Homo sapiens: one gene and its partner. The gene in region 1 interacts genetically with each later gene. Each region holds a gene or a part of one and is shown in the gene's direction. Other genes may lie near its edges.

Region 1 (3,811 bases):
GCATGTCTCACGTGGTGGCAGACAAGAGAAGAGAACTTGTGCAGGGAAACTCCCCTTTATAAAACCATCAGATCTTGTGAGACTTACTCACTGTCACAAGAATAGCATGGGAAAGACCTGGCCCCATGATTCAATTACCTCCCACAACACGTGGGAATTGTGGGAGCTACAATTCAAGATGAGATTTGGGTGGGGACAAAGCCAAGCCATATCAGTAGCCATGCATGCAATAGCATGGATTAATCTTGAACATAACATTGAGTGAAAGAACCCAGACTGTCTGGGTGCGGTGGCTCATGCCTGTAATCCCAGCACTTTGGGAAGCCGAGGTGGGTAGGTCACTTGAGGTCAAGAGTTTGAGACCAGCCTGGCCAACATGGTGAAACCTTATCTCTACTAAAAACACAAAACTTAGCTGGCTGTGGTGGCAGGTGCCTGTAGTCCCAGCTACTCGGGAGGCTGAGGCAGGAGAATCGCTTGAACCTGGGAGGCGGAGATTGCAGTGAGTGGAGATCATGCCACTGCGCTCCAGCCTGAGCGATAGAGTGAGACTCCAAAAAAAAAAAAAAAGAACCCAGGCACAAAAGGCCACATGCTGTGTGATTCCATTTACAGTATTATAAATATCTAGAATAGGCGAATCCATAGAGATAGAAAGTATGTTAGTGGTTGCCAGGGGCTGGGGGAGGGAGGAATGGAGAGTGCCTGCCTCCTGGGCACAGGGCTTCTTTCAGTGTGATAGAAATGTTCTGCAATTAGACAGTGGTGATGGTCACACAACACTGTGAATATGCTGTCAACCAGTGATTGTACACTTTAAAATGGTGAATTTTAGGCTGGGTGCAGTGGCTCACCCCTGTAATCCCAGCACTTTGGGAGGCCAAGGTAGACGGATCACGAGATCAGGAGATGGAGACCATCTTGGCCAATGTGGTGAAACCCCGTCTCTACTAAAAATACAAAAATTAGGCCTGGGCCTGGTGGCTCACACCTGTAAGGCCGTGGTGGTTCACACCTGTAATCCCAGCACTTTGGGAGTCCGAAGTAGGTGGAACATGATGTCAGGAGTTCAAGACCAGCCTGACCAACATGGTGAAACCCTGTTTCTACTAAAAATACACAAATTAGACGGGTGTGGTGGCATGCACCTGTAATCCCAGCTACTTGGGAGGATGAGGCAGGAGAATCGCTTGAACCCGGGAGGCAGAGGTTACAGTGAGTTGAGATCGTGCCATTGCACTCCAGCCTGGGTGACAGAGCAAGACTCTGTCTCAAAAAAAAAAAAAAAAAAAATTAGCCGGGCGCAGTGGTGGGCACCTGTAATCCCAGCTACTCAGGAGGCTGAGGCAGGAGAATCACTTGAACTTTAGAGGCAGAAGTTGCAGTGAGCCGAGATCGCACCACTGCACTCCAGCTTGGCAACAGAGTGAGACTCTGTCTCAAAAAAAGAAAAGAAAAAGGGCAGGGCGCTGTGGTTCACACCTGTAATCCCAGCACTTTGGGAGGCCAAGGCGGGCGGATCACGAGGTCAGAAGATCAAGACCATCCTGGCTAACACAGTGAAACCCCGTTTCTACTAAAAATACAAAAATTTAGCCGGGTGTGGTGGCGGGCACCTGTAGTCCCAGCTACTCGGGAGGCTGAGGCAGGAGAATGGCGTGAACCTGGGAGGCGGAGCTTGCGGTGAGCCGAGATCGCACCACTGCACTCCAGCCAGGGCGACGGAGCGAGACTCTGTCTCAAAAAAAAAAAAAAAAAGAAAATTAAAAATAGGCCAAGCGTGGTGGCTCACACCTGTAATCCCAGCATTTTGGGAGGCCAAGGCAGGCATATCACGAAGTCAAGAGTTTGAGACCAGCCTGACCAACATGGTGAAACCCTGTCTCTACTAAAAATAGAAAAATTAGCTGGGCATGGTAGCATGCACCTGTAATCCCAGCTACTCGGGAGGCTGGAGATTCGCTTGAACCTGGGAGGCGGAGGTTGCAGTAAGCTGAGATCTCACCACTGCACTCCAGCCTGGGCAACAGAGTGAAACTCCATCTCAAAAAATAATCTCAAAAAATAATAATAATAAATAAAAATAAATAAATAAATGGTAAATTTCAAATTCAAATAAAATTTAATAATTTTTTTAAATTGCAAAAAAAAAAAATGAAAGAAAAGAAAAGAAAGCCATCCAGGTGCAGTGGCTCATACCAGTAATCCCAGTGCTTTGGGAGCCTGAGGCAGGAGAATTACTTGAGGCCAGGAGTTCGAGACCAGCCTGGGCAACATAGTGAGACCCCATCTCTACAAAAAATAAAAGATAAAAAAATTAGCCAGGCATAGTGGCACATACTTGTTATCTTAACTACTTGGGAGGCTGAGGCAGGAGGATCACTGAAGACCAGGAGTTGGAGACCAGCCTGGGTAACATAATCAGACCCTGTCTCTTAAAAAAAAATTTATTGCCAGGCGTGGTTGCACGTGCTGGTAGTCCAGCTACTCAGGAAGCTGAGGCAGGAGAATCTCTTGAACCCCAGATGTGGAGGTTGCAACGAGCCAAGATCATGCCATGGCAACTCCAGCCTGGGCAACAGAGAAAGATTCTATCTCAAAAAAAAAAATTTTTTTTTAAGTTAAAAATAAAATAAAGACTTTGGGGCAATACAGGGGGTCCTGGGAGTGTAACCCATAACCCCCAAGAGTGATTTCTGCAATCTCGTTTCAAATTACAGGGTCAACTGCTATGATGTGTTTGGAGCCCAGTCACCCTTTGGTGGCTACAAGATGTCGGGGAGTGGCCGGGAGTTGGGCGAGTACGGGCTGCAGGCATACACTGAAGTGAAAACTGTGAGTGTGGGACCTGCTGGGGGCTCAGGGCCTGTTGGGGCTTGAGGGTCTGCTGGTGGCTCGGAGCCTGCTGGGGGATTGGGGTCTGTTGGGGGCTCGGGGCCTGCCAGAGGTTCAGGACCTGCCGGGGACTCAGGGCCTGCTGGAAGTTCAGGACCTGCTGGGGATCAGGGCCTGCCAGGGATTTAGGGTCTGCTGGGCGGGCCACCTTTTGGCCTCTCCCTCATGCTTGAGGCCATCAGTGTTTCCTACTAATTTCCCATTTTAAGCCTGAGAAGTGACAAGAGAGGGTAAAGACCCAGCCTCTGCTCTGTCCCATGAGAAATACTGAGGGACGTGCCCCCATCAGGCCTATGCGGTCATTTGCTGGGCTTCGTTATACGCCAAGGCCTGTAGGCCTGAGAAGAGGGAGAGACTTCAGGGGGCGGAGCGGAGAGGAAAAGCTTCTAGTAAGAATCTTTTCAGATTTTCACCAGGCGCGGTGGCTTTTCACCGGGCACGGTGGCTCACACCTGTAATCCCAGCACTTTGGGAGGCCAAGGTGGGTGGATCACGAATGAGGTCAGGAGTTTGAGACCAGCCTGACCAACATGGTGAAACCTTGTCTCTACTAAAATACAAAAATTAGCCAGGTGTGGTGGCGTGCGCCTGTAATCCCAGCTACTCAGGAGGCTGAGGCAGGAGAATCGCTTGAACACGGGAGGCGGAGGTTGCAGTGAGTCGAGATTGTGCCATTGCACTCCAGCCTGGGCAACAGAGCGAGACTCCGTCTCAAAAAAAAAAAAAAAAGAAAAGAAAAAAGAATTAGCTATTAGGTTGGAATGGAGCAATTCCCACAGTAATAAAAATATTTAAAAATAAATAATACAAACATAAGCTATTAGGCATGAGATATCAAGGCCCATAACCATATGCATCTCCTTTGATTTGCAACTTCAATGACTGGAATATAGCCTGAAGGACCCATCAGAAATAC
Region 2 (3,811 bases), on another chromosome or scaffold:
GACTTCCTTTCCTGGATCCAATCTAAAGGCCCGAATTTTGAAAAGAAAGCGGCAGGCGGGCTCTGAAGTGATTCCGACTCCCGTGCTTAAGCCGCGTGAGGCTCTCCCAGGCCTGCTGGGGCCCCGCCCACCGCTGGGCTGTCCACAGCCACCCTCCTGCCAGCTTCACGATGTCCCCATGACTGTGCAGCCCCTACATAACGTCACCCCAACAAAAACACGCTGCTTGACCGGTTCCACCTGCTTCCGAGCCTTCCAGCCCAGCCTCTCTCCAGCCAACAGGACGGAGGAAGCCCAGGGCCCCGACCTTCCTGTGGCTCCTGACTAGGGGCACAGTCACTGCTGGGGACACTGGTGGGGAAGGGAACCAGCCACAAAAGGGATGTGGCCTCCCAAGGCAGTATTTATACGTTCCTGGCCTCAAGCGGGCCAGATGCTTCTCAGAAGCTTAGTTCTGACACAGAATGGGGCGGGGGGTTCCTGACCCATTTTTGCAACTCTTCTTTACGTTTGAAATTCTGTCAAAGCAAAATCAGCTCAGAATTAAAGGTTACGCGGACACTCACAAACAGGCTGCATGACACGGCGTGGGGGCACTGGCTCTCCCACAACTGCATGTGCCACTGCAGGAACAGGACGACGCCCCGTGGGCCACGGGGTCCTGGCTGGGCAGCCTTCCTGGCATAGTCAGTGCTTAGAGAGCTCGCCGGCCTTGTCTTTTTGTTTTTGTTTTGCAGGAAACTGGAGTTTTATTATTACTCAAATCAGTCCCCCTAAGCCTTCCTGTTTTTTAAATTGAGATGTAATTTACATGCCATAAAATTCCCTCTAAAAGTGTACAGTTCGGCCTGATAGGCGCAGTACCTCATGCCTGTAATCCCAGCACTTTGGGAGGCCGAGGCTGAGGCAGGCGGATCATGAAGTCAGGAGTTCGAGAGCAGCCTGACCAACATGGTGAAACCCAGTCTCTACTAAAAATACAAAAATTAGCTGGGCGTGGTAGCGCACGCCTTGTAATCCCAGCTACTCAGAAGGCTGAGGCAGGAGAATCACTTGAACCCGGGAGGCAGAGGTTGCAGTGAGCCGAGATCGCACCACTGCACTCCAGCCTGGGCGACAGAGTGAGTCTCTTGTCTCTCAAAAATTAAAATAAAATAAATAAATTCAGTGGCTTTTAATAGAAGCACAAAGTTCTGTGCCCGTCACCACTATCCAATTCCAGAACAGTTCCCTCACCCCAAAAGGAAACCCTACCCATGAGCAGTCAGCCCCCACCCCCAGCAGCCTGCCTCCCCTTTCCCTACCTGTGACTCTTCCTGTCCTGGGAGCTCCATGCAAGTGCAGCCGGACAGCACGTGGTCTCGTGACAGGCTTCCTGCATTGGCATTGTGTTTTCGAGGTTCATCCGTGCTGGAGCAGGTGTCAGAACTGCCTTCCCTTTTAAGATTCGATCATCCCACTGTAAGGATGGGCCGCACTTCATTCGTCCACTCCTCAGTTGATGGCCTTTGGGCCGTCTCCCCCCGGGCTGTCATGAAACGTGCTACGGTGGACGTTCTTTCTCTTGGGTATCTACCTAGGAGTGGGGCTGCTGAGTCATGTGATTTGTTTAACTTTTTAAGGAAGTACCGATTGTTTTCCGAGCTGCACCATTTTACATTCCTAGCGGCAGTGCACAGGGGTCAGGGGTCTGCCTCCTACACATCCTCACCAACACGTGTCTTTTCAAGCTGGCTTTTTGAATTTCACCATGGAGCCCAGATTGCAGGAGCTTTGAAGAGAGGAAACGCTTGCTCAGTGGGGGCCTTGAGGGTGGCCATGTGTCGGGGCTCAGGGGCCATTTCCAGAAGGCGTTGCCCTGATGCTGCCACTTGCTCCCTGCCCTGCAGTGGGGAACGGAGGTTCACAGGGGGAAGGAGGGGCAGGGTGGAGCAGGAGAGGCCTCCCATCTGTGGCCATTCCAGCCCAGGGCCCAGGACAGGGGAAGTCCTTGCCTGGGTGTCAGAAGTGGAGACCCAGCCCATATTCCTCCTGAGGGGTCACCTGGCCCCGGAGGTGGCTGCCAGTGGGAGGGTGAGAAAAAGCACCAGCCTCCTCCCTCCCCAGGCGAGGGGCAAAGAACCTGTGAGGGGCAGAGAGTTAGAAATGGCGGGAGACATCTGCACTTGATTTGTGTGGCAGTCACAGGCCCGTCTGGAGTCCCCTGGGCACATCAGGCACTCTTGCTTCCCAGGAGCCGTCTACATCTGCACGGAAGACGCCTTCCCGCACAAGCGCCTGCAGCAGCTCATGGCCCAGCAGCCGCGGCTGCGCACTGACGTTCCAGGAGAGCTGCTTCAGAAGCTCCGATTTGGCAGCCAGATCTTCATCGAGCACGTGGCCGATGTGGTGAGTGTGGGAGAAGCCCCATGACACCCCCAAGGCAAGCTATTCAGGACCATTGGGGCAGGTGTAGCCACCACGGCAATGGGGTCTCACAGCAGGGCAGGGAGAGTTGGGGCTCAGCTCTGAACACAGCATGGGTCATGGGGGTTTACGCCCGAGGAGCAGGTGGGGTCAGAGGATGGAGAGTGACTGAGAGGAACTGGCAGGGGAGGGAATTCTGGCTAAAGCATCCTGCCAGGACCCTTGCTGAAGGTGTGCCTTGGGGATCAGACGGCCTCTGGGGACTGTGGAGGATGGACCAGTCAGCTACTGAGGGCGACTGGATACGGAGAGCAGGGGTCCTGCTACAATCTCAGCAGGGATTGCCAAAACTGGATTTCATGAGGACGTGCACAGATGGGCCTAGGAGGAGGCTCAGGAGCCTGACGGCAGTTTGGCCAAACAGAATCCTGGCCAGGAGTGGCTGTGGGCCAGGCAGGCAGGGCGGCAGGCTGCGACACCCAGTTACATCTGAATCTCAGGCAGCTTTGAAGCGTGTTCTAGAATGAGGATGCCCATATTCAGATCAACTTTCTTCATGATCTGAAACTCAGATGTAACTGGGCGCCTGTACACCATCTGTCAACCTTGCCCATGAAGACGGAGTGGGGAAGAGAAGCCCCAGGCGGGTGGCAAGGACCTCCTCTGGGCTGTGGGCCCCTGACCAGCTGCCCCAGGAGACCACCGCCCTGAGAAGGATGCGACCTGCTCTCCAGGCTGCTGCCCTGGTGAGATAGCTGTGTTGGTTTCCCCTTGCCCCTGAGGGGAAGACGGCCCTCACTAGGGGCACAGGGGCTCCACCTGGCCAAGGCCTGCTGGGCACCCAGCTCAGACAGGTGACCTCAGATCCTTGACCACTGCCTGGCTGCTGGCTTCCCTGCAGACACTGGCTGGGCTTGGAGGAGGGACCTATGGCAGGGCCTTGCAGAGAGCAGGGGCCACTCACCGGGGGCCAGTGGAGTCCGTCCTGTAGCCAAGAAGCAGGCAAGAGAGGCTGGGACCCATCCCTGCAGCTGGGGCAGCAGTGCTGTGAGCTGTCAGTGCTTAGTTTATAGACATCATCCTGGGAGGGAGAAGTGATGAAGTAGAAAAGACGCAGAAGAAAAGATGGGACGTTTGGGAGTAAACCCCTGACCAAAGGCAAGTAAGGAAATTCCACCCTGTGCAGGGGGAGCGGCTGCCATGTCCAGCCCACCCTAGACATGGCTGTGGCCTGGCAGAGCAGCTCCTGGGTGGGCCTTCCCCCACTTCTCTTTTTTTTTTTTAAGACAGTCTCGCTCTGTCGCCCAGGCTGGAGTACAGTGGTGCAATCTCAGCTCACTGCAAGCTCCACCTCCCGGGTTCACGCCATTCTCTTGCCTTAGCCTCCAGAGTAGGTGGGACTACA

The links.
Region 2: changes in ALDH2 (region 1) and XRCC3 are lethal when combined (synthetic lethality), as found in Homo sapiens cells (one large-scale study listed by BioGRID).

Annotation. Positions count from the first base shown.
Region 1 is NC_000012.12:111,801,139-111,804,949, forward strand, and holds part of ALDH2 (aldehyde dehydrogenase, mitochondrial isoform 1 precursor), read left to right. Parts: intron 1-2,720; coding exon 2,721-2,835; intron 2,836-3,811. UniProt on the Homo sapiens protein: Required for clearance of cellular formaldehyde, a cytotoxic and carcinogenic metabolite that induces DNA damage.
Region 2 is NC_000014.9:103,701,750-103,705,560, reverse strand, and holds part of XRCC3 (DNA repair protein XRCC3), read left to right. Parts: intron 1-2,233; coding exon 2,234-2,388; intron 2,389-3,811. UniProt on the Homo sapiens protein: Involved in the homologous recombination repair (HRR) pathway of double-stranded DNA, thought to repair chromosomal fragmentation, translocations and deletions. Part of the RAD51 paralog protein complex CX3 which acts in the BRCA1-BRCA2-dependent HR pathway.